Homo sapiens: one gene and its partners. The protein of the gene in region 3 purifies or fractionates together with the protein of the main gene of each other region. This does not show direct contact. Each region holds a gene or a part of one and is shown on either strand. Other genes may lie near its edges.

Region 1 (4,491 bases), about 110 Mb from region 3:
GAACCAGATCATGACTCTCCTTATGGTTAATCTTTATTGAGTGTTTATTATGTATTGGCTTTTGGCTATTTATTTAAATCTCAACAAAAATCCAATGGGATAAGTACTATTAGTATCATTTTACAGATGAAATTGAGACCTAAAACAGAGCAGCAATTTGGGTTAACAGAAATAGAGCTCCACTGAGAATTAGGAGACCTGAATTTCTTGTCTTGACCTGCAAGCTGTGGGAAAGTCTTTAACTCCTCTATTGCTATTATTAAATACCAGTAACAACTTCTCGGCTTACTTCACAAAGCTCTTGTGATGATCAAATGAAATAATGTGAAACCGGTTTATAAACCTAGAGTATTAATGTTATTCCGTGGAAAATTACATAAACACAAATATCTTTGGAAAGGTAATTTAAACAAAGTTGTAGAAAAGATAAAATAACATTATGCTAAGTCCTTTCATGTTTTTTCATTGTCCTTATTTATATTAGTTTAGAATACTTTATTTCAAAAATTTAAAAGTTTAAATACTTAAAAGGTTTCCAAATATTTACAGAATTGTGTCTGAAAAATTATGCACAGATGTTTGTCTATTGTTTTTCATTAATAAGATTAGCTACTGTCTACAGTGATAAGCATTTTAATAATAAAAAAGTCAGGAAAGTGTTATTTCTTAATATTTTAATTATCATTATAATTTGGCAGTAAAAATCACTTTTCACAAAGACATTACACTTACATTAACAAATCACTCTTGATTCATTCATTTTTGTTTTTCCATTTCTCCTGGCAGCTTTGTAAGAATCCATAACTTCAATATGTCTAACTCAGTTTTGCTTAGCTCATGGTAAACATTTGGAAAACTATGAAACTTCGTGGTCACTCCTAGAGATTTTAACATTGAGTTTGTCTCTTCTGCCCAAGAATGAAGAACTAACTCATCTGCAGTACCATGACACTGAAATAATTCAGGAAGTACACCATTACTCTTCTGAAGAGCCTAGAGAAGAAGATACAAAGACAGAAAAGTTTAAGAAATTCCATTTAAGATCATTCTTAGAAATCAGAGAGAACAGGAAAATTCCAATTTTACCAAGGCTTCAATAACTAATGGGAAAAAAAAGGCAGAGGGAGTGCTGTCTGAGGTATACATTGGTGGGCCAGGCCTGGGGACTTAGCTGGTTCCTGGCATCACTCAATTTGTAACTGTGTGTCACTTACATTTATTCTATAGAGGACGTCTTAAAAATGGCCAAAGCATTTCCTAAAGAAACTAAGTGACTTGGGAAGACAGACCTCTTCACACAATGTGGAAGGAGGGAGGAGTACACAGCTAAGGCACAATCAAGGGGACAATTACATTTTAGTTCTCTATTCTGTATCTGCTTTAACATTTCCACTTCTGGTACTGAAGCTGTAACATTATAATTGAAGCTGCATCATATTCATAGATGAGGATATTGCTGCATAATAAGTATGTGCTATGTAATTGATTTTTGTTTTATGTTCATGATGCAATAAGCAAACCCAGCTATAACCATCATGCAGTTTTAATATGTATAAAATTTACATATATGCTCCCCCACAACCACACACATGATTATCCTTTCCTCCTTGACATTTTGCTTAACAATATTTCTTGTACAGGGGATTTCCAAAACATTAATGATCAGCTGGAATTTAATCACTACGACTCATTTGGCCATGAATTCCAGGAATGGTCAATCCATATCAACTGTGCATCAACTGTGTGTGTGTTTTACAGCTTTATTACCGATTTTGCTTTAGTTTTAACATGTATATATTTCATATTTTTTTCATTTTTTTTTAAATCTGGAACTTACCTGGTAAACAGCAGATGCTTTATTCAGAAAACTAGAAAGAGCAAATACTCCTGCCACATCTTGATGATTTCTATATGCTAAATGTATTGCCATGCATCCTCCCATAGAGAATCCTCCTAAAAACAAAAACATACTTAAAAGTAGAATACATAAAATAATAATTTAGGATATGATATATAACAATTTTCCATATTTTTAAAATATCTGGAGACCTTTAAAGAGAATGCTAAAAAGAAATTTCGTCTACTCTAAGTTTCACAGACAAAGGCCTGCGATAACATAAATAACCCTGTTCCCTCTATGTCACCACTGGTAAAGAGAGCTGTGCTCTACAAGGAGCCAGGATTAAACAAATATATCATGTTCACCAAGTAAAATATCTATCGTAATTCAAAATGAGTCATATTACAAGCATTACTTAAATTCTCAATATTTACTTATATTTTGTTTACACGTACAGAAACCCTCACACTGCAACGCAATTAATAATTTGCACCTTTTTGTCTTACTTGCTAAGCTGTGAGCTCCATAAGGAGTTATGTATCTGGTGTTTGCTATATAATAGATGCTTAGTGAATTCTGAATTAAGAATGATAAAAAAAATTTGAGGAGCTAGTTAACACATTTTTGGATTACAATATTATTTTGGAAACTAATTTATGGTGATATAATAAAAATGAAACATGTATGCCTATATGTAGTTTTTAAAACCAAAGTTTGAAAAAAAAATTAGTCAAACTGTTATTGTCTCTTTAATGTACCAATTCTATGCCAGTCACTGGATATATGCAGATTAAAATACACAGACCCTCCTGTTCAGGGGAACTTTGAGAAGGAAACACATCCAACACAGAATATGGAGATAGCTGTTATGAGGTGACGGCAGCAGAGAGAATGGTGATTCCAGGCCTGACGACAAGTCAGTGACTCAGTGTGACATTCCTAAGCTTGAGAGAAAGCTAAATGACATCTCATTATATTCCATGAGAAAATACAGAATGTAAATCATGTAGCCACACACTCATAGAAATACAAAAATATACTTTGAAGTAGAATTCAAATCTCCTAATTTCAAGTCTGCTGCTTTATTTCACTTAACAAAGTGTAAAGCTGAGCTCTTAAGAGACCATAAATTTGAATTTACTACAATAATCTTTTATACATGGAGGGAACTGAGGCCCAAGATTAGGTACATATTATTTTAAATATAAAACTATTAATAGTAATTTTGGAATTCGGATCTTTTGCAATAGAGTTTAATATACTTTCTACTATCCCTTGATATTTATTAAAATAGGACTACTTTATCTGGAATAGGCAGGTAATATTATTTTGGACTCAGAACACAAATACCCGAGAGAAGATTACCAGTCTGGCAAAGTTTAGATTTTTTAAAAAAGGCACACTATGTAAATAATGAATAAAAGTTATCTGTGATTTTCAACATACCAGCAAGAAATAATAAGTTCTTATCGTAGCAGTAGCCCACCATGGACAAGAGCCACCTGAAAGGCTCTTTCAAAATACCCCCAATAACTCCAGATGTAGATACATCTAATTAGAAGTTCATAAATGAGCTTGGTGGGGGAGAAAAAAGCATAAGCATCTTAACACTGTATGTAAAATTTGCAAATGTACATTAGATTCTCCAAAAGGTTAAAAGCCACTGGGCTACATTATCCATGAATTTGTGCATTAATAAATCTTTGACATGTCCCATTTAGATATGAACAGCTTACGTAAATACACAAATTAGTATTTCTGGTAAACATTTATTGTAAGTACACAGAAAAAAATCTCAACTTTATTGTTTTTTGCCACAATTCTAGTTACAGATTTCTCTCTGCTTATGAAGTTTTCTCTTTAATAACATCATGAGGGTTGTAAAGCGAAGACATTTTGAAATAAAATTCTTATCGATTTAATTTATTGAATATAAATTATTGAGATTTTGAAACCCTTAAGGGTAAGAAACAGTTTTTCTTCAATAATCATATTTTCATTGAGTGCTTATGATTAGCTGAACAAAGTGTCTCTGTGGTGCACGCATACTAATGAGTCAGTTTCAACTTTACACGCTCAGTGGTAAGTATAGTGCTTTGCACATAGCAGTAACTCAATAAAAATTTAACTGAATTTTTAGAAACCGTATGGGTTTCTAATGAAAGTAGTAAAAAATTTACAAATATCTCTTAAGCTTATCAAAGAGACAACATTAAGGAAACTAGTTCTAGTCCTGCCTGTGATACTCCCAAGCTGAATGTCTTTGTGTAAATTATTTAAAATGCTGGATTTCATTTATAGTAAAACAAGATAGATGGACTAATCTCTAGATTTTCCACCAACCTTTTAAATACAAATACTTAATCAGTTATAAAAACTAAAATTGCGAGAACTTTTAAAATGTACAGTTACTGTAAATACAGAAATCTACTTTCAGTTTAAGAATCCCTATCTCTCAGAACACAATTCTAGCTTTCCTAAAAGTTCACAGAATAGAGCTTACCAAACACTCACTTCCTTCATCTCTTCCAATTTCCCCTCTGTTCTTTACAGCCCATTTACTTACAAAGGAATTTCAGGTTGCTTAAAATCAAACACACTGTTAATAATAAAACTACATCTCTAAAATAGGAGAGAATGTGAGAGAGGAA
Region 2 (4,491 bases), about 40 Mb from region 3:
TTAAGGAAGGAAATGAACAAAGCTCACAAGGACTACAACCCTGTGATGAATGGTTCCTAAACACTTTTTTTTTTTGGTCTCTCAAAAAAGAAAAAAATTTCAGGAACCATTCATCATAGGGTTGCTATGTTGCCCAGACTGGCCTCGAACTCCTCCCAAGTAGCTGGGAATACAGGCATGTGCCACCAAACCCATCTGCTTCCTGAATTTTTGATGTCTAAAGAACTGACCTATTTGCATGTAGTTTGCTTGTATTTGCATGTTACCCCCAAAATAGATTAAAATTCAAGGAATTCTGTACTGGGTCCAGTCTCTAAACACTATTTCCCTCCCAAGCCAATCTAACCCCTAACTCCCTAACCTCTACCCGACAAAAATTTGCCTCTCTCATGTCAGCTTGAGCTGGATAAGGTCCCAGTGGGCCCTCCCACCCTCACCTGTGGATCAACAAGCCAGCCATGGTACAGAGGTATGCCTAGCAGGTCAAAGACACTGCACTCGGGTGTATACTCAAAATCAGAGACGCCTGTGAATCGCACATTGACATCCAGACCTGTGGCCAGTTTAGGCAGCACTGTCATTGCATCATCCACATTCTGGGGGTAGAAAAAAAAATGATGGAGATTCTAGCCTTCTCTCCCACCACTCCACTCCCACCTGCAGAAATTAAAAATTAACCTTGCTGCTCTTCTTCCCTGATTCTCTTACAAGCCACTCCATTTCTCCCTTGCCTCAACCCTTCTCTATCTTATATAAATGAACATTGTTTTTCTTTGAGAGTCTAAGTCTAATTCTTTCATCCAGGCTGGAGTGCAGTGGTGTGATCCTAGCTCACTGCAGCCTCAAACTCTTGGTTTCAAGTGACCCTCCCACCTCAGCCTCCTGAGTAGCTGGGACTACAGGCACGCACCGCCATACCTGGCTAATTCTTGAAAAAAAAAATGGTTTTTTTTAGAGACAGGGGTATTATTATGTTGCCCAGGCTGGCCTCGAACTCCTGGCCTCAAGTGATCCTCCCGCTTTGGCATCTCAAAGTGCTGGGATTACAGGTGTGAGCACCCGGCCAATGAACATATTTTCTAGGACAAAGATAAACTCTCCTCTGACTCCTGCAGAATGAAATCATGGTTCAAGGAAACCTCTGAAGAAGCAACAAAAGCTTATCTTAGTATTACAAGATGTCCCCTTACAAACCTGCAAACCCCTATGCCTGCAGACCTTTTGCCTCACCTGCTGAAAATTAAGCTGAAGTCCCTCTGACTTCTCCTGGGGCTTGATGGACAGGAGGCAGTTTCCTACAAGACAGGGCCCCTTATCAGCTTACCCCACCAATCATCCCAAAAGCTAAGTTTCCTCTTCTCCTGGAGAATGCGGGTAATGTCACAGAACACAGATTTTCAGAGCTGGAAAATACTTAGAGTCTAATCCAGACTCTTCATTTCTCAGAGGAGGCGACAGCCTCATAAAGGTGAACGGCCCACCCAGGGTCAGATACAAAAGCTAAGGGCAGAATTGGTGTTACAACCCAGGACTCCCGACGCCTTTGCTTTTCATTCTCCAGCCTTGCAGAGAAGCCCCATAGACCCTTACCCTCCCTGCTGTATCAGAACCCCCAAATGGAGATCCCTGAATAGTCTGGATTTCTGGCTGAGTGGATAGCTCTGGAGCCCCTTGGGTAATTCCTCTTCAACGCCCAGTCACTCACCAAGATGGGCCATGAGCTCATCCGATGTGATCACTTCCTTCTGCGGGGGGAGCTTCACCTGGAGGCAGAAGGGGTGATCACGTGTGTGCTTTCCTCCAAAGAGCACTGAAGGAAGAACCCATGGAAAGGCAAGGGGGAGCTCCAGTAGTAGGGTGGGGTAGGAAAAAAGGCTTGCAACTGGCACAAGGGAATGAATGTGAAATCTTGCAAGGCATGTGCATTTGCTAGGGAGTAGGAGATACAGGGGTAGGACAGATCTTCCTCTTTTTTTTTTTTCTTTGTTTTTAGGAACATCTTATCTCATTTGCTCAAGCTGGAGAAATAGGGAGAACAATCTGAAAAGTTTTGACTAGTTTGAGGACATCAGGATGATCAAGGAAGTAAGTCAGGGAAGAGTACTCCCTGATATTTTTTGCACCCCTAACTGCATGTTCTCTTACCTTCCACTGAAGAAAGAGGATGTTCATGATGGCAAGGAGAGGGCAAGGGCCGTTAGTGCTCTGGGTGATGATGGGTGTCTGTTCTCCTTTCCAAGGGATCCACTTGACACAGTAGAAATCTGGCTCAGGCTGTCGGGTCCTGGGGGACTGAGGAAGCTCCTGGGGCATGGAGCATGCCCTTATTGTCTCTACTTCAGGCAGTGTCCCAAGGGTTGGCCCCGGTGGAGCTGAGCTAGCTTCAGGCAGAGGGGACTCAAGGTTGTCCCCACACTGGCTAGGCAGCAAAGCTTGGTCTGCTGGCTCCCGTTCTCTAGCCTCCCCATCAGCATCTCTTGCATCTGTGTCCTGAGGGTGCTCATCTGGGCCTGCCAGAACCTCATGGTTTTCAGGGATGACTGCTTCTGCAGTCCCGGCCTTACCAGGGGCTGGATCCTCAGGCTGATGGTATTCCATGGTCAAAAGGGACTTGGCTGAGGGGCACTGAAGGTGTTTACTAACCTCAGGGACTTGCCTAAGCCAGGCTTGGGATGCAAAAGAGTGACCTGTCCAATAAGAAGGAAATCAGTGGGCTGGAAAGCAAACTAACCCAGAAAAGTCTTGGAAAAGGAATGTAGTGTAGAAGGCTGGCTAGTGTTTGTGCAGTAACTCCTGGCTATGGGCAGTATATGTGTAAACAGAAGGGCCCCGTGCTGAGCTCTTTCCACCTCTAACTTGCTGTGACCAGATGAGACCAAGAGGTCGTGGGGCTTCCAGACTTGGGAGGGAAGACTGGTGGGATTGAACACATGGGTGGAGTCAGCTTCCCTGAAACAGATCATGACAGGGAAGGGAGGAAAGACAGAGAGAAAGGGAGAGCACAAAGGAGAAAGAAGGATAAGAGGTGGAGAAAGAAATGTTAAATCTACGCTAATGGTTATTAATATGATGATCTTTAGCTTACTCTAATAGGCATCACATCAGTAACCCCCTCATAGCCATGACAGAGATAATTCCTCTGCCCTACCCCACACCCTGCCCCTTCACACAACATACTAAGAATACACAGTGCTTGTATGTTTAGGGATACCTTCTCTCTGCCTCACCCAAGGATAAAAAGATTAAGTCACATAGTACTTGGGGTGAAGAATGGAGGAGGCACAGAGAGTCAGTTTCATGCCCCTAAAGGTGAAATGCTGGTGAGGAAGGGGAAGTCTTCCACCTCAAAGGGCTCTACTGAACCTTACACAATCCCAAACCACAGTATAAAGGCCTTGGGAGGGGTTTCCTGTAAGCTGGGAGGGGAAATGTAGGTGGTGGGGGCTGGAATCAGAGACTGGTTTTGATAAATAACTTCAGATTAGGGGCACAAAAAGCACTCCCCACAAGTTCTTCCAGTAAGCTTCTCTTTAAAAAAAATTAATAAAGATATCAAATTTCTTTTAATTAAACTGAGACAGGGTCTTGCTTTGTTGCCTAGGCTGGTCTTAACTCCTGGGGGCCCAAGCAATCCGCCCTCCTCAGCCTGCCAAAGGACTGGGATTACAGGCATGAGCCACGGTGCCTGGACCCAGTAAGCATCTCTTGACAGCTAGCATTGAGACAGCAACTTTTCCTCAGTTCATTTTTTTTCCCCAGAAACTACCTAAACCCAGAGGTACTCTCTTGCCTGCTATTTCTATGAAATATGAAAATGCTGATTATTAATTTACATAACAATACTTCCTGTACATTCACCTACCTAAAGTTTTATGTCTATTCCCATCCAAGTGGTTTTATTTATTTATTTTTATTTTTTTGAGACAGAGTTTTGCTCTTGTTGCCTAGGTTGGAGTGCAATGGTGCGACCTCGGCTCACTGCAACCTCTGCCTCCTGGGTTCAAGTGATTCTCCTGCCTCAGCCTCCCGAGTAGCTGGGATTACAGGCATGCAACACCATGCCCAGCTAATTTTGTATTTTTTAGTAGAGATGGAGTTTCTCCATGTTGGTCAGGCTGGTCTTGAACTTCCGACCTCAGGTGATCCTCCCACCTTGGCCTCCCAAAGTGCTGGGATTACAGGCATGAGCCACCGTGCCCAGTCCTCTCCAGGTCATTTTAGATGTGAACACCGGACCTGTTTAACCTGTTCTCTATCAGCACTGGAGGCACATTGAGGCAAGCACAGATAGACATTTAACTAATACTGTGGGTATAAATAATAAAAAACCACAAATCCTGCCCTTTGGAAAACATCTCCCTTCAATCTCCTTGCTCCCCTCCCACTCTTTATCAGGGAGAGAAACAGGGAGAAATTAAACTAGTTAGGGGCCAGGCGCGGTGGCTCACGCCTGTAATCCCAGCACTTTGAGAGGCTGAGGCGGGCAGATTA
Region 3 (3,963 bases):
AAAACTTTGGTGAATGTGAAATGATTTATATATGGTCTTATCCAAGCAGGATCAAACAAATTCCATCCTCTGACCCTCTTCCTATGACTGATAGGATCAGTTCAAGATGGCACAGGTTGTCATGTTATTAGGGTGTTATGAGCTCCAGTTAAATGGGTGCAAAGGGAAGGAAAGACAAAGTATGTGACTTATGAGGTTAGTTCCCTCATAACAAGTGAAGAAGATAATCTGAAATAGGCTGATTGAACTAACCGAACTTCTGGGTAGACTCCCACTATAGCTCCGTCTTAGAAAGTCTATGTGATTACTGCTTCTATATAAAGGGTTAAACATGATAAAATTGATGATGGTCCCTATCTTTGTCTATGGAAAAAAATATCCAGTGAGTTTTGGGGGAACTCATGACCCAAGTCATAATAGGAATTTCAGGCTTCATAAAGACATCATGGTTGAAGCAGAGGTGTTCTGTTTCCAGCAAAGCCCAACAGGAAGCTAACTTTTGCTTTTTGAAAGGAGGATTCCCCACCAGACTGGGAAGCAACAGCCTAGGCTCCAGAGTCGGACACTGGACTTAAGTTGTTATCAGATGAATTTGCTCAGCTGCGTACTGTTGTGTTACAAAATCAAATGGCATTAGATACGCTTACCTCAGCCCAAGGAGGGTTTTGCACCTTACTGCATACTGAATGTTCTGTGTATAGCCCTAACAATTCTCACAATATTACTCACAAAGCCATGTTGGGTGTGGTTTTTATTAATTGTGCTTTTAATTCTGCTGTACTTAACCTGTATCTGTAAACTATATCAAATATCCCTTCCCCATGTATCTGTAAGGGTATTTTCCTGCAATTGAGTATCAGATTGAGGCCAAATGTGGAGGAAAAGTTAAATATTAAATTTGAACTCAACTGAACATGGACACAAACAATGGTCACCAAGTCCCGGAACAGGTTGTGTGAGCCCCTTGAGGCGTTCATCCAGCACTGTTTTGGAAAAATCTCTATTTCAATCTAGTCCTATATGTTAGTTATTGAAAAAAATAGACAGTCTCAAAAAACAAGCTGACCTTTTTATGTTCCTTGAACCTAGTTGTGAAGGGCCCTTGTTACTGGGCCTCATGCCAAACAACTCGTTACAAAAACAGCTAGAGTCCCAGACGGTGCCAAAGCTTCATGAAACCTCCTCGTCTGTGCACGAACAGGTGGCCGACTCTGGAGCCCAGGCTGTTGCTTTCCAGTCTGGTGGTGAATCCTCCATAGTCTGGTGAGTGTAAATATATATATATCTTTTCCCTTCTCCCTTTCCCATTGCAATTTGATTGTTATATCAATTTGCTTATTATATCAAGTTGTTTATTATATCGTTTGCTTATTACATCTGCATTGCCATTTATGTGAGATAAAGGTTGTTTACCCTTAAAGGTATTGTGTGTGTGTCTTTTCTCCTCCCCTCACACATCTCTCACACAGATCATTTTATACCCAAAGGGATATAAATCATTCTACTATAAAGACACATGCACACGTATGGTTATTGCAGCACTATTTACAATAGCAAAGACATGGAACCAACTCAAATGCCCATCAATGATAGACTGGATAAAGAAAATGTGGTACATATACATCACGGAATACTATGCAGCCATAAACAGGAATGAGATCATGTCTTTGCAGGGACATGGATGAAGCTGGAAGCTATCATCCTCAGCAAACTAACACAGAAACAGAAAACTAAACACTGGATGTTCTCACTCATAAGATGGAGTTGGAACAATGAGAACACATGGACACCGGGAAGGGAACAAGAAACACTGGAGCCAGCTGAGGGGTTGGGGGCAAGGGGGGGAGAGCATTAGGACAAATACCTAATGCATGTGGGGATTAAAACCTAGATGACGGGTTGATAGGTGCAGCAAACCATCATGGCACACGTATACCTATGTAACAAACCTACACATTCTGCACTTGTATCCTGGAACTTAAAGTAAAATTTTTTTTAAAAAGGGGGGAAAAATATATAGCAAAATGCAACTGGAATTTCCAAATGAATTAGTATTTTATTTAAACATCTATATTTTAAAAATAATTGTAATAATGAGAATACATAGACACAGGGAGGGGAGCAACACACACTGGGGCCTGTCGGGGGGGGGTGGGGGTAGGGAAAGCATCAGGATAAAGAGCTAAAGCATGTGGGGCTTCATACCTAGGTGATGGGTTGATAGGTGCAGCAAGCCACCATGGCACATGTTTACCTATGTAAGAAACCTGCACGTCCTGCACATGTATCACGGAACTTAAAATAAAATAGAATTAAATTAAATCTTAAAAATAGTAATTGTAATAAATTTATATTTGAAACATGTAAGGTATTTAATTCACACACAATGTTTTGTGTGCAAACTCCCCTTTCCCCTATAATTACTCCTCAGCTATCCAAGGACTTGAGGTCTTCAGATTGGGAAAAATAACATTAACTAAAATTTATTAAATAACTAACATGTGCTAGGCCCAGTGCTAGGTAGGTTATCTCATTTAATTCTCACAACAACCCTATAAGACAACAACTAGTATTATCCATATGTAATACATGAGGAAATTGAGGTTCACAGGTGAAATAACTTGTCTAATGTCACATATCTAGAAAGAAGGAGAACAAAAATTGAAATATAAGTTAGCGATTCTAGAGACCATGCTGATATTCTGTTCTGTCATATGGCAACCTTTGTGCTGGACAGATGTGGGAGAATGCTCTCTGCAATTGACTGGCATTGGTTATTCTAACAGTCTTACCCTCTTTGTATGTGAATAAACTGGCATTCTCACTTACATTGACTGCATGGGCCAGTCTCCGTTATCTTTTTTTCCATGTTTTAAAAATGTTTTTCTTGTGGTAAAATAGACCAAAACAAATTACCAACTTAAATATTTTAAGTGTACAGTTCGGTGGTACTAAATACATTCATAATGTTCTTGAGCCATCTCTCCTTTCCATCTCCATAATTCTTTTCATCATGTAAAACTCCAGCTCTATACTCATTAACCTGTAAGTCCCCATTTCCCCCTCCCCCAGCTCCAGGAAACCACTATTCTACTTTCTGTCTCCATGATTTTGACTATTCTAAGTATCTCACATAAACAGAAAAATCATATATTATCTGTCTTTTTGGACTGGCTTTTTTCATTGAGTATAATGTCTCAAGATTCATCCATGTTGTAGCAAGTCAGAATTTCCTTTTAAAGGCTGAATAATACTTTATTGTATGTATATATAACAGTTTTGTTATCCATTCATTCACTGAAGGACACTTGAGTTGCTTGCATGTTTTAGCTATGGTGAGTAATGTTACTGTGAACATGGAAGTACAAATATTTCTTTGACACCAAGCTTTAAGTTATTTTGGGTATACCTAGAAGCGGAATTGCTGGATCATATGGTAATTCTATGTATGATTTTTTTAGGAACTTCCATACTGTTTTCCATAGCAGCTGTACCGTTTTACATTCCCACCAACAGGGCACAACTGCTCCAATTTTTCCACATCCTTGTTAACACTTATTATTTTCTGTTTTTTGATAGTAGCCATCCTAGTGGATATGAGGTGATGTCTCATTGTAGATTTGATAGGCATTTCCTTAATGATTAATGGCATTAAGCATCTTTTTATGTGTTTATTGGCCATTTCAATATCTTCTTTGAAGAAATAGATATTCAAGTCCTTTGTCCATTTTGAATCAAGTTGTTTGGTTGTGTGTGTGTGTGTCATTGAATTTTAGAAGTTCTCTCTATATTCTGAATATCTCTTATCAGATAAACTCTTTGCAAATATTTTCTACCATTCCGTGAGTTGCACTTTTACTCTGTTTGCATTGTCTTTTGATATACAAACATTTAAAATATTCATGAAGTCCAATTTGTGCATTGTATTCTTTTGTTGTCTGTGATTTAGGTGTCATATCCAAC
Region 4 (4,491 bases), on a different chromosome or scaffold from region 3:
CGGGGACCACGCTGCTGCGTCTGTGGGGATGGCCCTGGCATTTCTCCCCCTTGTGGTCAAGGATTAAAGCCGGCAGGAGCCACTGTGCCTTCTCTACTCTCACCCCTGCCCCATCCTGGCACAGTGCTTCCTGGGCTCTGTGGTTCCTTCCAGGGCTCCTTTGCCTTTGCTGGGAGGCGGCCAGGTCAATCCTGCCAGGCCCTTCCCCACGACTGCCTCGACCTGTAAGGCGCAGACTCGCCTGCCAGCACCACTGTCTTCCTCTCGCTCCCTCTGCCCCTCCCTAGCTCAAAAACTCGAAGCCGGGTGTGGTGGCTCATGCCTGTGATCCCTGCACTTTAGGAGACCAAGGCAGGAGGACTGGTTGAGGCCAAGAGTTCGAGACCAGCCTGAGCAACAGAGTGAGACCCTGTCTTTACTAAAAATACAAAAAATTAGCCGGGCGTGGTGGTACATGCCTGTCACCCCAGCTACTTGGGAAGCTGAGGCATGAGCATCACTTGAACCCAGGAGGCGCAGAGGTTGCAGTGAGCCAAGATTGTGCCAAGATTGTGCCACTGCCTGGGTGACAGAGCAAGACTCTGTCTCAAAAAAAAAGAAAAAAAAAGTGACCTCTGGCGTGGATTTCTCCAAGGGCTTGTGTGCACATTCCAGCCTGTCCCCATCCTGGCCAGCAGGGTGACCCTGGGCAGGACACTGAGGCCCAGTCCCTCATCTGCCTGCAGAGAGGGCTGTGGGCACCAGTAGGGTGGTGTCTAAGAGCCTGGGGGGCAGCAGGGTCACGTATGAGGGTCTGGGGACAGTGGGGGCAGAGGCTATGGTTCCTGACGCTGTGGTTGGCACAGTGGGCTGGCCCTGGACATGGGACTCCATCCCTTCCTAAGGGGTCCTGGGGGTCCAGGACTGCTCCCAGCCTGGTCCAGAGAGAGAGAGAGAGGAGAATTCAGTCTCCCTGTGGACTCCCAGAGTTAGGGACAGGACCCCTGAGCAGCTGTCCTCCCCGACCCCAGCCTGTCCCGACCCTCGTCCCGGCCTCACCTGTGAAGAAGATGTAGTCGAACCTGTGCTCTAGCAGCTGCCCCGTCTCCTGGGGCCCGCCCAGCACCACAGCAAAGCAGCTCTGCAAGGCGGGATGGGTGAGGCTCCTTCTGGGACCCCAGCTCCGAGAACACAAGGGAGCAGCCCGCCCTGCCTGGACCCTGCCCTGCCTCCACCCCGCCTGGCCTGACCCAGCCAGGGCTCTAGGAGGGTTGGGTGGAGGCAAAGTGGGGAGAAGGGAGCTCCCCAAGGTTGGCTGGCATTGGCAGGCCCAGCTTGGAGTCCAGCTGGCGCTGGAGGGGCTGATGCCAGGGCCAGGTGGAGGCAGACACGGAACCCCTGGGCAACAGGCTGCCCTCGCTGCTCCTCAGAGGGAAACTGAGGCTGACAGGGGCGGTGACTTGGTCAAGTTTACACAACTCAGAAGAGGCAGGATTGAGGTGGGGACTCGGGTCTGACTGACAGGCCCTTCCATGCCAGGGGCTGCCCAGCCCTTGAGCCTTGCCTGTTCCCGCTCTACCTGCCCGGCAGCCCTGCTCACCTGGTCCACGTATTGGGGCAGCACCTCGGCCAGGATCTTCTCGACGTTCTTGCTAATCTCCGATGGCTTCAGCACCACACAGTTCCCTGCAGGGCAGTGCAGGGAGAGAGCTGGAGGAGGCGTAGCCAGCTCCTGGTCTCCACACACCTGCAGGGCAGGCATCAGCCTCACCCACTTTCAGATGCAGAACCTGGTTCAGAGAGGTAACATGACGGGCCCAGGGCCACACAGCCCGGGGACGGTGGACCAGACAGTCCTCTTTGCCACCTGGGCCAGTTCTCCCATGTCCTCCTGGGATCCATGGGTGGCCCTGAGGCCTCGAGCGGAGAAGGGTGACCGGAAGGGGCAGGCCCAGCTCTCACCTGCAGCGAGGGCTCCCACGAGGGGCACCAGCGTCAGGTTCAGCGGATAGTTCCAGGGCGCAATGATGAGGACCAGGCCAAAGGGCTCCTTCCGGATGAAGGCGGAGTCCAGCTGCGTGGCCTGGGCCGGGAGCCGGGGATGAAATTAAGTGCTCAGCACCCCGGCCCCTCAGCAGCCAGCTCCCACCCAGAGGGGCCACCCTGTGGGAGCAAATATCCCCTGAGCCCCCTGCCCGCCTCAGCCCGGCCGGCTCACCAGGTTCTTGGGCACACGCTCGTCCTTCATCCAGGCCCGGAGGTTCCTGAGGGCCAGGGTGACCTCGCCCTGGCTGATGGCAACCTCAGACACCTCCGACTCGAAGGCTGACTGCAGGAAGTGGGTGGGGTCAGGGTGGGCCAGGATTCCCAGAGTTGGCAGGAGGGCACAGCCTCCTCCAGGCAGGGCCTGCTTCCACAACTCATTCATTCATTTTCATTCATTCGTTCACTCACTCACTCCATGTTCAGTGCGTGCTTCCTGTGTGAGGTGCTGTCTCTGTGCCAAACAGAGGGACCGGCCCTGAGGCCGACCTTGCAGGGGGCAGTCGTTCCATGTGAAAGTGAGAACGCTGACGGCTCCATTAGGACGTGGCTGTGCTAGGGAAATCATGGAGCAGGGTGGGGGTGGAGACTGCTGGAGCGTGTGGCTGTGGGCGTGCACAGGTGTGCACATGTATACATCCACATGAGCATGTGTGTGTGTGCTGTTTTTACAAAGCGGTCAGTGCAGGTCTCCAGGCGGCGGTCACATTGGAGCAGTGACCTGAAGTCAAGGAACAAGCAAGTCGTGGGTACTGGGAGGCGGCATACTTTGGGCAGAGGCCCTGGCGGCTGCAAAGGCCCCGAGGTGGCTGTGCGCTTGCTCTGCTCCTGTTTAGCAAGAAGCAGAGTGGGCAAGGTGAGGGGGCCAGGCAGCCAGGCAAGGACTCCTGAGAAGAGCAGGGATGGGATCTGACTTAGGGTTTTGTTTTTTTTTAATTTCAAAAAAAGTTTGTTTTGATTTTTTGCAGAGTGCCTTGCTGTGTTGCCTAGGTAGGTCTTGAACTCCTGGCCTCAAACAATCCTCCCACCTCAGTCTCCCAAAGAGCAGGGTGGAGATTGGTCCACAGGAGACACAGGCACAGCCACCCCTAGGTAAATGCTGTCAGTTCCCACAGCCCAGGGGCCAGGGCCACTGTCAGGCTTCTAAGCAGGAGTGAGGAGACCCGAATCAATAGGGACATTGTCCTGCTCTCGGCTAGCCAGTGCTCCCTGCCCTCTGCGCCCCAAGGGAGGAGAGACCAGCCAGGCAGCAGGCTGCAGGCCGCTGGAGAACAGGTCAGGGACACTGGGGCCAGGCTGGCTCCCTGGCTGAGGCAGCGCCTGAGGTTATGGGGTGCAGGCTCTCCCGGGTCAGGGCAGAGGGGGACGGGCCAGTGGGGTGCTGGATGGGCCAGAGGACCAGCGAAGCCCAGAGAAGGAGATGCCCTGCCTGAGGTCACTCAGCGAACCAGGGGCAAGGCCAGGGCTACAGCTGAGCCCCAAGAGGGAGGAAGACGCCACGCCCACTGGCACCTCCTAGCCACTGAGGCTGGGGGAAGGTGCCTTCCACACGGACTTTCCCACAGCCTGTGCTCTGGCCCCATGAGCCTGGTGGCCTGCCCGCCACACCTCCTAGGTCACCTGGGACCTGACTTTGGGAGACTGGGCTATTTTGAGCCAGGTTCAAACTCTGGCTCTGCTCTTCCTGGCTGCATGCCCTTGGGCAAGAACACACTCTCTCTGAGCCTCTTCTGGGGGCCACTGGGTGTGGTTGCCCAACCAGATTCACCAAAGGGTTAACTGAGAGGGTGCACGTGACGCTGGGCAGATGCTGCCTGCTGAGGGTGGGGACAGGGGGGTGACCAGGTCCAGAGGGAGGGACCAGGTTGAATGTTCTGGGCTACTGCTGCCTTTGTAGGGCCCCGCTCCTGCAGCTGGGATGGGAAGGCAGGAGGTGGAATCAGAGCCGAAGGGAGAAAAGGGACCAGACAGACGTCAGGTCAAGTCTCATGAAGGCCGGCAGGCGGCCGGTGGCAGAAGCTCAGTGGTGGCGGGGGAGTCAGTCCCCAGGGAGCCCAATGGGCTGGGGGAAGGTCTGAACACTACAGCCTTCAAGGCAAAGGGAGGAGATATTTTGTCCAGAGAATAGGAGCCGGGGGCAGCCCCTGGGGCAGATGTGCTGAGGCAGGGGCAGGTGGTGTCCTGAGGCAGGGGCAGGTGTCCTGAGGCAGGGGCAGGCAGGTGCATGGGCCCTGATGGGTGAGGGGTTGGGGGAAGTGTGTTTCTTGGGGTTCTGCCTTGGCTGCCACTGGGATTGGGAGGGGCTGAGGCCCCAAGCCTTCAGGGTCTAGACAGAGGCCATGATGCCTGCTGTACCCAGAGAGAAGGCCAAGGCCTCACGGCCTCCGAGGCCCTACATAGTGTGGCCCATACCCCAGACCTCATCTTTGCTGTTTCTTCCTCTCCCACCCCCGACAGCTATGCTGGCCT
Region 5 (3,500 bases), on a different chromosome or scaffold from region 3:
GTGAAAGCTCTGCTCTGACGGATACTGGCCATCAGGATTTCTCTCTCCCCTCCCGCAAGCGGCCCCCCTCTGGGGGTCTACTGTCCTAAGGCTTGGGGAGCGCTGACTCCCACGTCTTGGCTCCTCATCCCAGCACCCCCTGTGTCCTCAGGTGTGCAGACAAGTCCCAGCCTCCCCATGTGTCAGGTGAGATGACCCTCACCTGCCCAGGGCACTTCCTGATAGGTGGGGGGGAGCCACAAAGAGGTAATCTGGGCAAAGAGCAAGCTGCTGCCCTCATCCCTGCCACCACCAACACATCCAGCACCTGCCTCAGGTCTGGGCCTGGCCCTAGCTAAGCACCTCCTACAGCCCTGACCCTCCCCTCCCCACTGAACCCATCCTCCTCGCTGACCCCACCCTCCCCACTGAGCCCCCCTCCTCCCTAAGCCCCGCCTTCCTTTCCCCCACTGAGTCCCACCCAGCACTGTGAAGCAGGTGCTGACTCCCACATCACAGGTGAAGAGCTAAAGCTTAGGTGAGGGGCAGCGTGGGGGCTTCAAACCCATGCCTGGGTGACTCTAAAACCCAGACTTTTAGCCCTCTACCCTGCCTTGCAACTCCTTTGTTAAATCCAAGTCCTCAGCTCTGCCTCTGTATCCCCCACCAGGCCTGGCCATTCTCTTCCTGGGACAGTAAGGGTCAAAGCTCGGGCTTTGCTGGTGACTTTGGAGGCCAGGGCCCAGCTCCGTGGGGCTCCAGCTGTCTTGGCCTGCTCAAAGACAGGACACACTGGGCCTGTCCTCGCTGAGGGTGGAGGGTGGATAGGCACCTCCCTGTCCCCCACCCCCCAAGTGTGTGGCCTTGGGAACAGGCTGTGCTACCCTCCCGTGACTGCTGTCCCACTCCTGTCAGCTCTGCCTTCCAGCCTCTCACCTGCTCAGCCCCGATGGGGGGGTCTTCCCAGCCCTGCTCGGAGCCCCACAGGAACCGCAGGGCGGCCATGGCCTCCTGGCGCCTGTGCTGAGTCAGCAGGAAGCGCGGGGTCTCGGGCATGAAGCACATGAGAAGCAGCATGAGGGAGGGGGGCACGCAGCCCAGCACAGCCAGCCAGCGCCACTCCAGCACCCAGCCTGCGGGGGGTGGGTGGAGGAGGCTGGCGTCAGAGCCAGGGTGAGCCAGCCTGGGCCTTGCCAGCCTCAAAGACTCAGCTTCAGAGATGGGGCCTCGCTGCCTCTGCACATCTGCCCTCATGTTCGCTACTGACATTGCCATTATCACAACTGTTCATGAAGGCACATGGCACGGGCCAATCACACCAGCTGCGGAAGCGACAGTGGGTATGACAACGCGGACATTACTAGGCTGCATCCGTTCAACGAAACATTTATGTAGCCACAAAAATGAAGGATGAGGTGCTTGCTGCGTGTCCGCATGGTATGATGTGGCACCATTTGTAGAAGAGGTGGGGGAGGGAGGATAAATATGCATGTCCCTCATATGAACAGACTCTCTGAAGGCTACCAAGAAACAGGCAATGGGGACTCCCCCAGACAAGAAAGGGACAGAGGCGGAGGAAGCTTTTCACTGGACATCTCTCCACTCTGGCACTTGAGTGTTGAGTCATTTGAATGCATTATCTATTCAAAGTATACATGAAAGTAGAGAGGTGAGAGGATTTTGCTGTCTTGACGTATGAAGAACAGCATAAGTGCAGAATTACCTAGTTTTATATAAAGTTAAAAGGTTCTCTTACAAAGGGGCCCTGGAATAAATGAGTCTAGGGCATTGCTGCTCTAATTACTAATTTTTCCTAAGCCCAAGGCTTACCCATCCCTGGTTCCCAGTGGAAAAATACCTCTAAGGTAGCCATGATGTCCCTATTTTTCTTCTGTGCTGGGGGTGCAGACAATTGTTCTATGAAGTCTAGTCGTTGGAACATGATTGCCCCAATGTGAAGCAAACGTGCCACCACCATGTCACTTTGTGGAGTTATCAGAGTTCACCCACCCCAGTGGATCGAAACTCACAGAAATTGATCAGGAAAGGCAGGAGAAGCAACAAGCACATATTAAGATGAGCTGAAGATAGTGCCACGGGTGGGTGGACACCCAGTACCTGTCCCCGAAATGATGAATGTCAACACCTGCACACAGTGGGGGCTTTGGTTTACTCAGGTCTCCCAAGGTAGCCAGATCGCTGGCAGGATTCTGAATTTGTTAGGGTGGTTAAGTGGGTAAAAATGAAACACCAAAGACCTGTGTATCATCCGCCCTGACGATGCAGAGGGCTTGTGCCCTGGGCCAGGCCATAGCCCGTCAGGCCCCCGAGGCCTCCTACCCCGATGATCCCCATGGTTCTCAAGTCATCCCTTGACAATTCTCATTTGGAACCCACTGTTAGGCACTTTTCATGTGTCAATTAATTTAATGGACAGGTACTGGACTAGATGAGGTTATGCCCATTTCAAGACAGAGAAACTGAGGCTTTCAGAGGTGGTATGACTTGGCCAAGGTCACACAGCACGTAGGAGAGGCTATCCCCAAACTCAGGATGGTCAGATTTGAAGCCTGCCCTTGTTTTTTCTTTCTTTTTGAGACAGAGTCTCACTGTGTCGCCCACACTGGAGTGCAGTGGCGCGATCTCAGCTCACTGAAACCTCAGCCTTCTGGGTTCAAGCAATTCTTGTGCCTCAGCCCCCCAGGTAGCTGGGATTACAGGTGCCCACCACCACGCCTGGCTAATTTTTGTATTTTAAATAGAAATGGGTTTTCACCATGTTGGCCAGGCTGATCTCGAACTCCTGACCTCAAGTGATCCGCCCACCTCTGCCTCCCAAAGTGCTGGGATTACAGGTGTGAGCCACTGGGTCTGGCCTCTAAAGCCTGGCCTCTTTCTAATGAGAACACACCTGTCTCCTGAAGTTTCTTCATGCTGGCCCAGCTTTGCCCCTCGGGGTCCCCAGGACCCCGGCCTCCTTCACGTTGCAACTCGCCGACATGGTGAATCTGGCACTGACATTCTCAGGGGACTTGCTCAGCCCTTTACTCGCCCGGGCTGAAGATTTTTACAGGGACCCACCCACCTCTGGAGCCCTCTGGTTTGTCACTGCACAGTAAGGTACTGACCTAAGCAGTCAGCCCTTCCCACACCCCTAGAGGGGGCTTCAGGAAAGCTGAGGGTATCACCTTCTCCAGCTGTCCCTGGAACTCAGTCATAAGACACACCTATCGGCCGGGCGCGGTGGCTCACACCTGTAATCCCAGCACTTTGGGAAGCTGAGGTTTGGCGGTTCATGAGGTCAGGAGATCAAGACCATCCTGGCTAACACGGTGAAACCCCCTTTCTACCAAAAATACAAACAATTAGCCAGGTGTGGTGGCACATGCCTGTAGTCCCAGCTACTTGGGAAGCTGAGACAGGAGAATCGCTTGAACCCAGGAGGCAGAGGTTGCAGAGAGCCACCACTGCACTCCAGCCTGGGCGACAGAGCGGGACTCTGTCTCAAAAAAAAAAAAAAA
Region 6 (4,491 bases), on a different chromosome or scaffold from region 3:
CACAGGCCTCAGTGCAGGCTTTGTCTTCAAAGACAGAGCTGTGAGTGCCCAAGGAGCTTTGACTGCTCATCAGGTGTGTGTGCTGAGATGGGTTTGAGCCCAGGTCAGGGCTCCTGCCAGGGCCTGTCATCCCTTCACAGTGAGCCTGTGCCTTAGCCCTTGCACAGCCACCAATGAATGCTTTGCCCGATGTCCCCAGATGCCACCCTGGGTCCAGGCTGGCCTTGGGAGCCAGCTCTAGAGCCTGCTACCCAAGTCCACCCACCCTGCTGACATGCCTGCCTCTGGAGCCCCCACTCCCAGCCGACACGTCTCACTTCCCACCCTTGCAGGCTATGAAGAGACCCTGACCCGCCTGGCTGCCATTCTCGCCAAACACTTTGCCGACGCACGCATTGTGGGCACTGGTGAGGGGCCCCTACAGAGGGTACAGGGGGAGGGGGATGGGATGGCACCTCTGGTCGGCTTTCTTCTATGAAAAATGTGGCCAGGTGGGCATGAAGTATGGGTCCAGGGCTCATGCCAAGCCCCTGCTGAGGCACGGTGTGTCCCCGCAGACATCCGAGACTCACTGATGCAGGCCCTGGCCAGCTACGTGTGCTACCCACACTCCCTGCGGGCTGTGGAGCGAATCCCCGAGGAGCAGTGAGTGGGGCCTGGGGGGCACACACCCTGGCCACAAGCACCATGCCCAGCCTCACCCCGTCTCTCCCCTCCTTGCCCTCACAGGCGTATCGCCATGGTGAGGAACCTCCTGGCGCCCTATGAGCAGCGGCCCTGGGCCCAGACCAACTGGATCCTGGTGCGGCTCTGGAGGGTAAGCCTGACTCGAGGGGAAGTGGCTGAGGCTGGCTGGAGGGAGAGGGTGCGCTGTCCCATTGACCTGGGCACTGACCCCCACCTCCACAGGGCTGTGGCTTCGGGTACCGCTATACACGGCTGCCACATCTGCTGAAAACCAAACTTGAGGACGCCAATTTGCCCAGCCTCCAGAGTGAGTATCTGGGTTGGGCGAGTCCTGGGCAAGGCAGGCGGGGGCGCTTACCTCCTACCCATGGGTTCTTTCAGACTCTCCACTTCTTCCAGCCCCTCTCTGGTTCCCCCATTGGGTCCCAGACTCCCTACGTGTCCCCTGGGGTTTCCACTTTCCCTGCTTCCTTCCAGCCCAAGGATACTCGGGATGGGACTCCCCCTCCCCAGCCTTGCCCACAGTCTTACCTACATGTGCCCTTTGGGCCTGGATGCTCTATGTGGGTCATGGTGAGAGGCGGCACCATGTTCCTGGCCTGCTACAGCTCATGCAGACTGAATACTCTGTCCCTTGCCCTTTAAGCTAGCTCCCTGACCTCCAGCCTTGTCCCAGCACCATGTCCTTCTGCTTCTTTTTTGCTATCTGCTGGTGGCAGACCCTGGCCTTGGCTTAGGCCTTGGACACCTGAGTCCACTGGGAGCACAGATTGGAGGTTGGCCAGGTCCCCAGAGGGTATTCACGAGAGTTCCTGGAGGAAGGGACATTTAGTTGGGAGCAGAGGCTGTGCCCTCTCTCCAGGGTCCAGCAAGGACTTTCCCCTAGGCCTGGCCCTTGCAGAGTGCCAGGTGTGCCACACACTGTCCTCACCCTTCATGGTGGCTCTTCTTGGCTCATGTAGTCTGTTTCTGCCCTTGTGGGCAGTGTTTTGGTCCAAAGGGTGTCCCCAGAGAGGCTGAGTGTCTTCTGCTAAGTCACACAGCAAGTCCTTGCCAATTGCCGTGGTCCTGCGTCCAGGGCGGAACTGAGCTGCAAGTGGAGAGCGGCAGTGGGGCCAGGCCTGTCCTGCTGCTGCGGGAACTATTGATTTGTATCAAGCTGGTGGGGAGGTGCGCCAGGCCCGTTGCAGCTGAGGGCTCCGGTTACTGCTGCCTGCCAGCCCAGACTTGGTGCCCACCACCTCGGCCATATGCCAAGGCCAGGCCAAGGGCAGCAGAGGACAGTAGAGGACAGCAGGTTTGCAGCAGGGCTTAGAGTAGGCTCTTGGAGGAGCTGGCCTTGGTGCCGGTGGGGAAGCATCTAAGCCGCCCTGTTTAGGTCTGACCCTATCTGAAGGGTGTGCGACCCAGAACTTGCTGAGGGTCAGGCTGTGGCTGTGTGGCTGCTCTGGACCTGGAGTGGATGGTGTGGTGTCAGGGCTGGACACAGCTGCAGCCTGGGGCTTGCCTAGTAGAAGGAGGGGACAGATTCTGTCCCAACTAACTCCAAGGCAGCTGTCCTCTGTCCCCTGCTTTCATGACCTGAGCATTCCTAGGGAGCCATCTTTCTGTCCTTATACCAAAGCCTCAATGGGCGAGGACAGAGGCAAACAGGCAGAGGCCACTGCAGTGGAGTCCCTGATGATGCCGCCTCCTGTCCCCCTGCAGAGCCCTGCCCTTCCACCCTGCTGCAGCAGCACATGGCGGACCTCCTACAGCAGGGTCCTGATGTGGCACCCAGCTTCCTCAACAGCGTCCTCAATCAGCTCAACTGGGCCTTCTCTGAATTCATTGGCATGATCCAAGAGGTGGGCTGTGGTGGGGCCTCGTGGGTTAGGGTGGTGCAAGGGATGAGGCCTGGTCCTGGGCTAGAGCCAGGTGCTGACCACTGCATGCCCACGTGTTGGTGGCTCAGATCCAGCAGGCTGCTGAGCGCCTGGAGCGGAACTTTGTGGACAGCCGGCAGCTCAAGGTATGTGCCACCTGCTTTGACCTCTCGGTCAGCCTGCTGCGTGTCTTGGAGATGACTATCACACTGGTGCCTGAGATATTCCTTGACTGGACCCGGCCTACCTCTGAGATGCTGCTGCGGCGTCTTGCACAGGTGTGGCCATCTGGGCAACAAGGGTGGGACCCTGGGGATGCCCCATTGATGACGCTCCCCATCCACCAATGGACTCCTGCTCCCCTCACAGCTGCTAAACCAGGTGCTGAACCGGGTGACAGCTGAGAGGAACCTGTTTGATCGTGTGGTCACCCTACGGCTGCCTGGTGAGGACCTAGATGCCCTGCACCCCAACACACTACAGGCCTCGGTTCCTCTGCTAGGAACAGTGAGGCCTGATTCCACATTCTGCCCCCGGACAGCCAGACTTGGTGCTCTGCAGTCTCGGCTCACCCTTCTGTAGAGAGGGCAGTGGGCAGGCCTGGAGCCCTTGAAGCAGGAGCATGTGGGTGGCTCATCTCTTTCCTCCCCTTCCCCTCAGGCCTAGAGAGCGTGGACCACTATCCCATTCTGGTGGCAGTGACGGGCATCCTGGTGCAGCTCCTGGTGCGTGGCCCAGCCTCAGAGTGAGTGTTGGGGACCGTGGGCCCCTGTGGGAGTTGGGTGTGTCTGGTGAGGAGGGGCTGGACAGGGCCTCCTGGTACTTCAGTTTCCTCATCTGGAAAATGGACCTCAGCATCAGGTTTTGAGGCAGAGGGAAGGTGGTGAGGTGTGAACGGCCTAAATAGGGGGCAGACGGAGCTGCTCTAAGTAGGAGAATCTGGGACCCCAGCAGGACAGGTGGCCCTGGCCCACAGAGCCACTGGCTTGTGGCCATGCCTCAGGCCAGGCATGGGAGGCAGGACTCCGGAGGGTGTGCCGTCCTGTGGTGGACAGGGCCAGGCCGCCAGGAGAGCTGAACACACGGAGGACCGCCATTGTCTGCAAAGGCTCTAGCAATAAGCATGTGCTACCTTTATTAAACTCTGGAGCAGCGAGGTCCAGGATGGCCATGGGGGCCCCCAGCTCGGCCCCCACACATGAAGGGCTCCCAGACCCCCCTTCCCTGCCCCCCTGCAGTGGGAGCAGTGAGATGCATATGAAGCCAGGGTACCGCCTCAGCCATTAGGCTGAGACCAGTGCCAGCCCTTAAGAGGCTCCTGCTCTCGAGGGACGTGGAGTTCCGGCTCGGCCCTCCCAGCTCGGCCATGCTCGCCAGGCTTTTCGGGCTTTTTACTGCTGAAAAGCAGGGGTGCAGGCCATGATCCCCTTCACTGTGTCTTGTGAGCCCACAGAATGGGCTCTGCCTTCAGAACAACGGGTGGATGCCCCAGGCCAGAGAGAGCAGGGCCTCTGGCTGGGGCTTAGGCCAGACCACCAGGAACCTCTTGAGGAGCCTTTCCTGCCTGGTGCCTGCCCACCGGACTCTGCGTGAAGTTGTGAAGCTTTCAGGAGGTTGGGTGTTGGTGGATGGAGGGAGTCCCATTTCACCAGAGGGCGGGCTTGTTTCCTCTTTCTGTCCTGGGGTGTGGGCGAGATCTTCCTTCAGAGCCGCCTTCTTTTCCCTGTGGGCCCACTCCCTCCCACCCCCTTGGGAAGGGGAGGTGGCCCTGCGTCAGCTCTTGAGCACCACTCCTCGAGAGCTGTCTCAGCCCCTGAGGGTGGACGGGAGGCTCTGCTACAGGGGTTCTTCCACAGGCTGTAGAAGAACACAGCCACTTCCACAGCTGTGCTGTGTTGAAAGCCACAGGGGCCTGGGTCTCTCAGCCTCACAGGGCATT
Region 7 (4,519 bases), on a different chromosome or scaffold from region 3:
CAATGGACTGAAATAAAAGGTTAGTAAACCAAAATACAGTTGATCCTCATTATTAGTAGAATTCCTTATCTGTGAATTTGCCTACTCACTAAAATTTGTAACTCCAAAATCAACATCCTTTTCTGGTCATTTGTGAGTATTTGCAGAGTGACAAAAAATTTAAACCACTTTATGTGCACAAGGCAATGCTCTACCTTGTTTAAGCTCTCACACCATAAACAGATATCCTTTTTGTGGTCTATTTAGTGCCAAGTTTCATGTTTGTGCTTTTTGTTGGTGATTTTGCTGTTTTAAGATGGTTCCTAAGAGTAGTAGTGAAGCATGCTACCTAGTGTTCCCAAATGCAAAGAAGGCCGTGATGTCCCAAGCATGAGTTAGTTATAGTGCTGTTGGCTGTTAATTGAAAGTTAATGAAATACTAAAGAATGTTTTCAAGCAGAAACAGGTCGATCAAGGTTATATACTGACTGGCAGACAATATTGTGACCAAAGGGTCACAGAATCTGTATTTCTCTTAGGAACTTGTTCCTTATTTGCTAATTCAGTGTTCATAGCCACCTTAAAGAACAGAATTACCACAAACAAGAACCAGCTGTACTTTCATGTCTCCTTGTCCCTGGAAATAATTTATCCTGCATAAAAGCCTTAGAAGCTAGTGTTTCATCATACACTAAATCATAACAGACTCCATCAGATTTTAAACGAGGGTATTGGATAGAAAACACAAAGAGCAGATATACCTTTACTTTATAAGGCAGATAAATATTACCTCCACTATTTTTTTAACCTCAAAAGTCCTTGTATCCTCCAATAATTAAGAAACTTATGATGACTTAAGGAAGTTTAGACGGTAGGTAGTATAATTTATCATCTTAGAGCTACACATAAGAAATACTCCTGTTGAGAAATACATACTAGTTTATACCAGATGTTTTATACAGGTCCTCTTAAGATCCTTATATATTTTATGTTAGACAAACAGTAAGTAATTTGCCTTTAAACATCATTTAAATTTATTAGTGTATAAATTCTAAAGAGTCCAAATTAAATATGTTGATATTGAGAACATTTCAGTTTTCAGTTTTGCTAACAGGGTTTAAGCTTAATCATAACAATTGCAGAAGTTTGATTATGTCAAGAAATAGCCAACTGAAGGAATAATTTATAAATGGTCATTACCTTTAAGGGGCTAGCTGAATACAATGTAAATACTCATGCCTGTAATCCCAGTACTTTGGGAGGCTGAGGCGGGAGGACTGCTTAAACCCAGGAGGTTGAGGCTGCAATGAACTGTGATTGTACCAGACCTGTACTCTGAAATCTTTATCATACTATTTTTAATGCATGAAATAAAAATGGTTTATATGTACATAGAATACACACACACACACACCCCTAGGTCAATTTCTTAGGTCTCAGTTGTGGTTAAATTCACTTTTAAATACAAGGTTCCAAGTATCCAAGTTGCCAGGCCAGTTGCCTGTACCTGGAACAGCCTTTCCACCGAATAAGAAGAGTCCCTACTTAAACAGCTTAAGCTAATTTCCATCATACTATTTATCACAGTCTAATTACCAGTTTATCAGTCTCCCATTAAAGTGGGGGCTCCCTGAGAGCAAGGACTGTCATCTTCACTTTGCCTTGAAAAGTAGACATAGGTCCCAAATTATCTGCTAAATGAGTAATGAACAATATTTCTATTCAGAAGGTGTGTGCTTGCCCATAATTAATACGCAAATATTCTAAACTATAATCTGATTTAAAATCCCCAAATTTAAACAAGAAAATTATACCAAGGCTTTGAGATTTAGCTTGTGCTAAATCATTTTTTAAAATTGTAGCTCTGAGGCATTTTATTATAAAAACTTAGTACTCATATACATAAACTAATACGAACTTAAAATTCATCATACATTTACTTCATTTTTTAGCTTGACCTTCTAGTAAATCTTTAGCTTCATTGATTTTGGCTGCTATATAAGGAGATCCTCCTATAGGAAGAAAGAAAAAAGAACAGTTACAATATGGATTCTCAATTTCTGCTTGGTAAAAAGCTACTCTTGTTTCAAGGACTCCAATGCTTATCTGAGGGAGATTTAGCAGAAACAGTGTTTTAATTTTTAAAAAATAACCCTGACACTGCAACTGGATGACCAAATATATGGTAATATATGTGACCAATGAGAAATGAAGTAATTTACGTGGGAGATATTTCTACAAAAATAACACCTTTTTAGAAAGCTTAAACTGATAGAAATAGGATTTCTATCATATATATTAGATATATATGTATATGCCTTTGAACTGGTGTTAGCCTATTCATGATTACAGGTCATAAATGAACATCAATTATACCATGTTATTTTAATACCATGATATTCTCAGAGGCTTCTGAGCTGTTTACTGGAAAGATCCCAGTTTGCTTTACATCCTTTTTCTGTCCAGTTTTTCTTTTCCTGTTATCTACTGTCCCTTCACAATGTCATCTACAGCTGCTTTCCTACGAATCTGCTGGAGGAGTGATTCTCAAAGTATGGTCCTAAGACCAGCAAGAAATAACAGGAAATTTAGTATAAATGCATATTTATGGGGCTCCACTGCCGACCTACTGAGTCAGAAGCCCTCCATATAAAACAAGCTAAATTTCATAAAAGATACTGTGAAGTAGATATCAAACAATTATAACCCTGTTTAAAATGTCAAAACCCTTTTTATTAATGAAAGCCCTCTCCTGTATAAGTAAAAGGATACAAACACTAGAACATGAATTCTGTGGTCTATTTTTTGGTATTCAAAGAAATTCTTGCTTTCCTTCAACACAGCCAAGGCTGCATAGAAGTCTATCACAAACGAATAAATAAATCCCATAAGTTTCTATCTAGGTAATCTCCGTTTCAAGGTATCTAAAATGGATAAGGAAAAATTACATTTTAGTTTTACGAAATTTAACGTTTTAATTATAATAAATGTAGGCCAGAAAAACCCACAAAACATAGTAATAGTAGCACTTACATCTGCTCATTCTGTAAGTAAAGTTTTCACTTAATTTCTTTTAAGACACCAAAAATATATGGCTCCAGCCTAGGAGACAGGACTTACAGATTTAAGTGTTACCTTTCTAATAGCCAGGAATTTGAGATAAAATTATCCCATTAATAACTATTGGTCACACCAACAACATCAACGAGAATTTAATGACTACTTACCTTTGTCAGGATGATTTAAAAGCATAATTCGTCGATGAGCATCTCTTATTTTCCCTTTATTGGCAGTAGGGCTAATTAAAAAAAGAAATGGTATTTACTTCATCCTACTTCTGCATCACATCAAAAAACTGTACATAAAGGCCAATTAAAGACACTGTGAAACTGTAGTAAATTAACACAACAGTATGAAAAGCTGTTTAGAAACCTCAACACACCCAATGCGTATCCTAAATTGGGAAACTACTTAGAAAAGTAAGGCACTCTCAAAAATGTGTTGAACTTGCAGTACCCATTACAACAGTCCTTTTATTGATAAGAAACGCATGTTTAAGGATTTGAAAATGAAGAAGGAAGAGTTTTGTTTTTTTTTTTTTTTGAGATAGTCTCACTCTGTCCCCTAGGCTGGAGTGCAGTGGCTTGATCTTGGTTCACTGCAACCTCGGCCTCCCGGGTTCAAGCGATTCTCCTGCCTCAGCCTTCCGAGTAGCTGGGATTACAGGTGTGTGCCATTACGCCTGGCTAATTTTTGTATTTTAAGTAGAGACGGGGTTTCACCATGTTTGCCAGGCTGGTCTTGAACTCCTGACCTCAAGTAATCCACTGGCCTTGGCCTCCCAAAGTGCTGGGATTACAGACGTGAGTCACCGCGCCCGGTTGAAGGCAGAATTTCACCACAAAAAAAATGTCAGTTACAGAGAACAACACTGAACACTGTGATAATCTGCTGAGGAGTCTATCTTTAAATAAATGAAAAAGTGCCTGTGTTTTAGTAAACACTCTAGGAAAAAAGAAAAAGTGCTTAAGTGCTAGTGTGCCTTCTCATTTGAAGGATTGTTTACATCTTAAAAATAACATGAAGGAACAGTACAGTTTCATTGATTAGAATTGGTAATATCAATCTTCCTAGGACAAAATCCCCCATGACCCTCTCCTATTAAAGGAGAGAAGGTCTTTCTTATATTTCCTCATGGCTCTACAGTGGTAGAAAAATGCTAAAAATATTAGAGATTATTTTACCTTACACCTAGTATTAATGCTGCTTCCCGTTTTGTCATTTTGGGTTCAAACCCACCTCTATAATAGCCACCACTGAAGGCCTGAAAGAAGAAATGCATTTGTAAAGAAAGGTTAATAAAATAAAGTTGCTTTAAAAAAGACGTCTGGAAATATTCACAGAACTAAGAAAAACTAAGACATTTCAGAGGACTTTTAGTGCAATTCCCGAGGTATTTTAGCTAAAGCTGAATAAAGTTTATAAATAAGTAGCAACAAGTAGTATTTTAATGATCATTAAACAGATTCATTTTTTTCCA

Evidence for each region.
Region 1: the proteins of CHIA (region 3) and LYPLAL1 purify together in Homo sapiens (co-immunoprecipitation; one large-scale study listed by IntAct). This does not show direct contact.
Region 2: the proteins of CHIA (region 3) and MINDY1 purify together in Homo sapiens (affinity purification with mass spectrometry; 3 studies listed by BioGRID and IntAct, with this or other methods). This does not show direct contact.
Region 4: the proteins of CHIA (region 3) and ALDH3B1 purify together in Homo sapiens (affinity purification with mass spectrometry; one large-scale study listed by BioGRID and IntAct). This does not show direct contact.
Region 5: the proteins of CHIA (region 3) and SLC2A8 purify together in Homo sapiens (affinity purification with mass spectrometry; 3 studies listed by BioGRID and IntAct, with this or other methods). This does not show direct contact.
Region 6: the proteins of CHIA (region 3) and RNF123 purify together in Homo sapiens (affinity purification with mass spectrometry; 2 studies listed by BioGRID and IntAct, with this or other methods). This does not show direct contact.
Region 7: the proteins of CHIA (region 3) and DNAJC19 purify together in Homo sapiens (co-immunoprecipitation; one large-scale study listed by IntAct). This does not show direct contact.

What each region holds. Positions count from the first base shown.
Region 1 is NC_000001.11:219,207,994-219,212,484, reverse strand, and holds part of LYPLAL1 (lysophospholipase-like protein 1), read right to left. Parts: intron 1,971-4,491; coding exon of another isoform or gene 1,954-1,970; coding exon 1,838-1,953; intron 994-1,837; coding exon 757-993; 3' UTR 1-756.
Region 2 is NC_000001.11:151,000,020-151,004,510, forward strand, and holds part of MINDY1 (ubiquitin carboxyl-terminal hydrolase MINDY-1), read right to left. Parts: intron 2,950-4,491; exon of another isoform or gene 2,688-2,949; coding exon of another isoform or gene 2,599-2,687; coding exon 2,146-2,598; intron 1,811-2,145; exon of another isoform or gene 1,764-1,810; coding exon 1,706-1,763; intron 1,296-1,705; coding exon 1,231-1,295; intron 597-1,230; coding exon 438-596; intron 1-437. UniProt on the Homo sapiens protein: Hydrolase that can specifically remove 'Lys-48'-linked conjugated ubiquitin from proteins. Has exodeubiquitinase activity and has a preference for long polyubiquitin chains. May play a regulatory role at the level of protein turnover.
Region 3 is NC_000001.11:111,289,688-111,293,650, forward strand, and holds the start of CHIA (acidic mammalian chitinase isoform c precursor), read left to right. Parts: upstream 1-1,163; 5' UTR 1,164-1,263; intron 1,264-3,963.
Region 4 is NC_000011.10:68,016,344-68,020,834, reverse strand, and holds part of ALDH3B1 (aldehyde dehydrogenase family 3 member B1), read right to left. Parts: intron 2,309-4,491; coding exon 2,198-2,308; intron 2,063-2,197; coding exon 1,942-2,062; intron 1,666-1,941; coding exon 1,580-1,665; intron 1,121-1,579; coding exon 1,039-1,120; intron 1-1,038. UniProt on the Homo sapiens protein: Oxidizes medium and long chain saturated and unsaturated fatty aldehydes generated in the plasma membrane into non-toxic fatty acids. May have a protective role against the cytotoxicity induced by lipid peroxidation.
Region 5 is NC_000009.12:127,400,169-127,403,668, reverse strand, and holds part of SLC2A8 (solute carrier family 2, facilitated glucose transporter member 8), read right to left. Parts: intron 1,113-3,500; coding exon 916-1,112; intron 10-915; coding exon 1-9.
Region 6 is NC_000003.12:49,713,181-49,717,671, forward strand, and holds part of RNF123 (E3 ubiquitin-protein ligase RNF123), read left to right. Parts: intron 1-332; coding exon 333-407; intron 408-557; coding exon 558-645; intron 646-729; coding exon 730-817; intron 818-909; coding exon 910-994; intron 995-2,394; coding exon 2,395-2,534; intron 2,535-2,641; coding exon 2,642-2,830; intron 2,831-2,921; coding exon 2,922-2,997; intron 2,998-3,212; coding exon 3,213-3,297; intron 3,298-3,648; exon of another isoform or gene 3,649-4,491. UniProt on the Homo sapiens protein: Catalytic subunit of the KPC complex that acts as E3 ubiquitin-protein ligase. Promotes the ubiquitination and proteasome-mediated degradation of CDKN1B which is the cyclin-dependent kinase inhibitor at the G0-G1 transition of the cell cycle.
Region 7 is NC_000003.12:180,982,720-180,987,238, forward strand, and holds the end of DNAJC19 (mitochondrial import inner membrane translocase subunit TIM14), read right to left. Parts: intron 4,304-4,519; coding exon 4,224-4,303; intron 3,278-4,223; coding exon 3,207-3,277; intron 1,992-3,206; coding exon 1,921-1,991; 3' UTR 990-1,920; downstream 1-989. UniProt on the Homo sapiens protein: Mitochondrial co-chaperone which forms a complex with prohibitins to regulate cardiolipin remodeling.